2 separate regions of the Homo sapiens genome follow, and region 1 is linked to region 2. Evidence: fine-mapped expression QTL. A gene starts in region 2. The other region holds a variant in brackets. All regions are shown on one strand. Distances are from middle to middle. Region 1 has its middle 54 kb from the start of DDX3X. Region 2 holds the start of DDX3X (DEAD-box helicase 3 X-linked).

Region 1 (2,902 bases), 54 kb after region 2:
CATCATCTCCCCAGCCCCCACCGCATGCCTGGGGACAATTGTTTAAAGTCACTTTGTTCCTGACTAGCTGGCTCACCTATTATCTTCATGTACCTGGGATTTGTGATATAAAGACAAATTTTTACTTTAAAAATCCACTTGTAGGCCTGGCACGGTGGCTCACGCATGTAATCCCAGCAGTTTGGGAAGCCTAGGCAGGTGGATCACTTGAGGCCAGGACTTCCAGACTAACCTGGCCAAACATGGCAAAACCCCGTCTCTACTCAAAATACAAAAGTTAAAAACAAACAAACAAACAAAAGTTAGCTGGGCATGGTGGCGTGTGCCTGTAATCGCAGCTACTCAGGAGGCTGAGTCAGGAGAATCTCTTGAACCTGGGAGGGAGGTGGAGGTTGCAGTGAGCTGAGATCACGCCACTGCACTCCAGCCTGGGCAACAGAGCAAAACTTGGTCTCCAAAAAAAAAAAAAAAATCCACTTGTAACTGCTGCTAGGCAGAATGTTATGTTCAGGGCAACCTGAATCTGTGCTCTCAGATAACAATTTTAAAGCTTGGCCCAAATAAACTCTCTACGTATATTCATTTTGCCCCAGCTTCTTCCTTTTAGGTTGACACCATCAAGTGACAAATGGATAAACAAAATGTGGTATATCCAAACAGTAGAATATGATTCATCAGTGAAAAGGAATGAAGTATTGATACATGCCATAACACTGGCGAAACTTGAAGACCTGTTAGTTAAGTTTATGGATACAAAGGTCACATATTATATATTGTATGATTCCATTTATATAAAATGTCCAGAATAGGCCGGGCACAGTGGCTCACACCTATAATCCCAGCTACTTGGGAGGCTGAGGCAGGAGAATCACTTGAACCCGGGAGGTGGAGGTTGCAGTGAGCCGAGACGGTGCCATTGCACTCCAGCCTGGGAGACAGAGCTAGACTCCGTCTCAAAAAACTAAAAAGATAAATAAAAAATAAAAAACAAAAATCCAGGAGCATTGCGGCAGGGGATATGGAGCCAAAGGCCATTGCGACGACATGAAGAAAGTAGAGTTTGAGAAGGAATAGCCTGGCATTTATGGAAAAATGTCTCAGAAGCAATGACTAGCAATAAAAGGCTGATTGAGAAACTGGGGCAGGAATCCAGAAATGAAATGATGAGGGTCTAGGCCAAAGCCTTGACAGGGAACTGGAGAGAGAAGATCCAATTTACAGTCTAAAGAGGAAACTGGCACCAGATTACATGGTCACATTAGTGAACCAAACTAGGGCCCACTTGCCTGGAGCAGCAAAGCCAAACACTGACATCGGGATAGCAGCGAAAGTGAGACATTTATTGCAGGACACCAAGCCAGGAGAATTGGCCAGCTAATGCTTGAGACTGGAACTCCATGATGACTTACAGGTAAGGGTTTTTAAAGGCAAAGAGGTAGAGGTTACAGGCAAAGTCATAAATCAAGGCAGGACATCCTCAAGTCCCGGGA[T/C]TGTGGGGGTGGGGGCACAGGTCGTAGGTGGATTCAGAGATTTTCTTTTTTTTTTTTTTTTTTTTTTTTTTGATACAGAGTCTCCGTCTGTTGCCCAGGCTAGAGTGCAGTGGCACGTTCTCGGCTCACTGCAACCTCCGCCTCCCGGGTTCAAGTGATTCTCGTGCCTCAACCTCCCGAGCAGCTGGGATTACAGGTCCGCGCCATCATGCCTGTCTAATTTTTGTATTTTTAGTAGAGACGGAGGTTTCACCATGTTGGCCAGGCTGGTCTCGAACTCCTGACCTCAAGTGATCTGCCCGCCTCGGCCTCCCAAAGTGCTAGGATTATAGGCGTGAGCCACCGGGCCCAGCCAGGATTCAGAGATTTTCTGATTAACGATTAGTTAAGGAGGTGAAGCTTTGTCTAAAACTTTGAGATCAACAGAAAGGAATGTTCACTCTTGCTTGTGGACATGACCTCCTCTGGGCCCCTCAAAAAGAAATTTAGAGCAGAGGTCAGAGTTCAACCTTCAGTTCCCCGTTATCTGAGGTTTACATGCCAGCTGATCCTTGTGATGGGGGCCCGAGGTTCCGAAAAACAACTCAGGGACATATATCAAGATGTTATCTTCAATTTCTTTTTTCTTTTTCTTTTCTTTTCCTTTATTTTATTTTATTTTTTATTTTATTTTTTGTGACTAGATCTTGCTCTATTACCCAGGCTGGAGTGCAGTGGCGCAATTTCGGGTCACTGCTATCTCCACCTCCGGGGCTCAAGCCATCCTCCCACCTCAGCCTCCTGAGTAGCTGGCACTACAGGCATGGGCTATGTGATCTTTCTGTGCTTTAATCTTCCCAGTTGTAAAAATTAAAGAACAGTAGTGACTACCTCCTAGGTTGTCCTGACAGTAACCGAGAAAATCCATGTGGAACAGCAGAAACACTAAGAAGAATGCAAATGTGCTTTCCTCTCTTGTATTTCCATACAGACGACCTTTTCCCTGGGCAGCCTGTAGCCATCTGCTTGGGAGCAGGGAAGGTTTTTCCAAAGTTCTTGAGCAAATTAAATATAAATCCTAAAGATCTCAGATCACAATGTCTCTTCCATGAGAGAAAGAAGATACCCCTATGCCAACCTCAGTCAAGCCGTGAGACTTGTTGCCTTTTAGTAGGAGGATATGACCTGCAGAAACTGAAAGCCCAAAAGTCGTCCCTTCCGGTTCCCAGGACTTGTAGGCAGAAACATGGAGGCAGGACCAGGAGAGGTGTGGCAGTGGGTCCCAAGGTCACTCTTCTGGGCATATGGCCAGAGAAAGGGTAGAAAGTTGGGTAAATTGAAAGAGAAACCAGAAGCCAAGGTCTCTGGCTAGATTCAAATCTGGGACCCTGAGAGGAGATTGTGTCCCACACTGCCACCCCCCCCCACCCCCC
Region 2 (2,830 bases):
TTATGAAAAGGAGTTGGGTCTTTCACAGGGTTATGGAATGTAGCAGACTCCTTTTATAGATGAGCAAATTGAGACCCAAAGCCGTTAAACAACTTGCCCCCGACAGTGTGATATTCTCTCCCTATCTCGTTCGAATTTCCGTCTCGATTTTAAAAATTGAGAAGGGAGAGAAGTTATGTGTATAGTAAATTATGTGATGAGCACGAACTATTTGAATTCTGGCAGCAGAAGACCTTTTGTGGGGGTGGTGGAAACCACTGCGTTTTATTTAATTTCGTAGGGCTGAGGGTCAGAAGAGAGGGGAAAGCGGTCATAAGAAACTACGGATGTGCGGGCGCCGGCTCAAAGCCGGGAATCCACTAGTAAACACCTTCTTCTATTTAAGGGCCTGCGGCACCGAAGCCGGGACTTGGGGTGGCCTGCCTAGGAGGGAACCACAGGAAGAGGTTCCACCGACGGTAGAAACCCGGTTCCTCCTGTTCCTCATCCACCGCAGCGGCCTGAGAGTCACCCCGAGCCCAGGCCGGTAACCCCGCTGCAGCCCCTCCGGCAGGCCCAGGTTGCACCGGCTACAAACATTCCCGACACCCTTGGGCCCTAGAAGAGCCGTTCGCCACCCGCGGGGTCCCCGCAACGCCGGTGGTCACCGGCCCTAAGCCGCTGGGCGCCCCGCGGGAGGAAACTAGGGGCAAATGTAGCCCGCATTCCTGCGGAGAGCCGGGGTCCCGGGAGGGCGCGCCAGCGGCGGTTCCGGATCAGCGCGTGTCTGTCTCATTGTTCCCTCACCGCGGGGGGCGGGGGCGGAGGCGCGCGCGCACACGTCGGGGGGTTGGCCAGGAGGGGCCATTGTGTGTTTCTAGGCGGCGCCCCCGCTGCCTAGGCAACCGCGCAGGAAGGTGTCCGGCCACCTGCGCGCGCCGCCGGCTCCCCTCCATTTCCCCCCGACTCCCGCCCCGGTCACCATCCTACCCTCCTCCCTCCTCCTTTCCCCTTACTCCGCTCCCCTCTTTTCCCTCCCTCTCCTCCCCTTCCCTCTGTTCTCTCCTCCTCTTCCCCTCCCCTCCCCCGTCCGGAGCACTCTATATTCAAGCCACCGTTTCCTGCTTCACAAAATGGCCACCGCACGCGACACCTACGGTCACGTGGCCTGCCGCCCTCTCAGTTTCGGGAATCTGCCTAGCTCCCACTAAGGGGAGGCTACCCGCGGAAGAGCGAGGGCAGATTAGACCGGAGAAATCCCACCACATCTCCAAGCCCGGGAACTGAGAGAGGAAGAAGAGTGAAGGCCAGTGTTAGGAAAAAAAAAACAAAAACAAAAAAAACGAAAAACGAAAGCTGAGTGCATAGAGTTGGAAAGGGGAGCGAATGCGTAAGGTTGGAAAGGGGGGCGAAGAGGCCTAGGTTAACATTTTCAGGCGTCTTAGCCGGTGGAAAGCGGGAGACGCAAGTTCTCGCGAGATCTCGAGAACTCCGAGGCTGAGACTAGGGTTTTAGCGGAGAGCACGGGAAGTGTAGCTCGAGAGAACTGGGACAGCATTTCGCACCCTAAGCTCCAAGGCAGGACTGCTAGGGGCGACAGGACTAAGTAGGAAATCCCTTGAGCTTAGACCTGAGGGAGCGCGCAGTAGCCGGGCAGAAGTCGCCGCGACAGGGAATTGCGGTGTGAGAGGGAGGGCACACGTTGTACGTGCTGACGTAGCCGGCTTTCCAGCGGGTATATTAGATCCGTGGCCGCGCGGTGCGCTCCAGAGCCGCAGTTCTCCCGTGAGAGGGCCTTCGCGGTGGAACAAACACTCGCTTAGCAGCGGAAGACTCCGAGTTCTCGGTACTCTTCAGGGATGAGTCATGTGGCAGTGGAAAATGCGCTCGGGCTGGACCAGCAGGTGAGCCGCAAGAACCCCACCGGGCTGGCTGCTGCGTGAATTCCTCCCCTGACCTAACCTGGCTAATGGCGCAGCGCTAACCGGCACCCTTACTTTTCATTTTCTGGGTGCCCCGGGCTGGCGGGTGTGAGTGCCCCGGGGCTATAGAGGGATAGGAATGTTGGTTGGGGCTGTCGCCCGGGCCCGGTCTCGGCCCGCTGTATTGTCCCCGGGACGAGCACAATGGCGGCTTTTGTGTGTGCGTGCGCAGGCGGGCGGAGGGGGAGGAAGTGCGCGCGCTCTCGCGGGGACGCGCATGCGCGAATCCCGACTGATTAGTGACCTGGGGGGGTTTGCGGGAGTGCGCAGCGCGGCGGGACGCGACTGGAGGCCCTTTTGGCTTGGAGGGCTTCGGCCTTCACGGCTGGCGCAGCCTGGATTCCCGTCCGGAGGACCTGGCGGCACCCGGTGTTTGCGTGCCTGCGAGCAAGGGGTAGAACGCGGCCCAGGAATGTGGGAGGGGGCGGCCTTCGCTCGGGGTAATGGCGGCGGCCTCTTTTGTGTGGTGCTGGGCGGCGCTGTGGCTCACCTCCGGGAGACGGCGGGTCTCGGGCGGGCGAAGGCCTGGAAAGGAGGATGGAATGGGTTTCTTGTTTTTTCCCGGGTTCCTTCCGCTGGCTTTTTCGCTTCAGCCCAGGTTCCGCAGGGTCCGGGGGCCCTGCGCCGCAGCCGGGGAGGCTGCGTTTCCGGAGTGGAAAGTTTTGTGACGCAGAAGATTGGGGAGGAGTGGGGGAGGGGTGGGGGCGGGGAGGGGAGGCAGGAATTGGCCGCTGCGCGCTGGGCCCTGGAGATAGAGGTTGGACGTGGCGGGGAGGTTAGGGAGCCAGCGAGGCCCTTTCTCCTCCTTGCTTGCCCCAGATTGTCCCTGTGTGGTATGTTAGCCGGGAGTCCCGCGTTGTTTTTCTGGG

Evidence for each region. PIP is the estimated chance that this variant, and not a neighbour inherited with it, causes the effect. A credible set is the group of variants that fine-mapping cannot tell apart.
Region 1: its variant is the best candidate, but not a certain one, in a credible set for the expression of DDX3X in T cells (TOPMed, PIP 0.69).

The regions. Positions count from the first base shown.
Region 1 is chrX:41,386,767-41,389,668 of GRCh38, forward strand. No RefSeq gene overlaps it. Among named protein-coding and RNA genes, the nearest start is that of DDX3X, 54 kb to the left of the region's middle. The variant T/C (reference allele first, on the strand shown) is at 1,491.
Region 2 is chrX:41,332,415-41,335,244 of GRCh38, forward strand. It overlaps DDX3X (DEAD-box helicase 3 X-linked), which reads left to right and starts at 1,748. Exons shown (of 17, transcript NM_001356.5): 1 at 1,748-1,883. The coding sequence starts at 1,839. RefSeq lists a silencer at 569-1,058 and an enhancer at 1,149-1,378.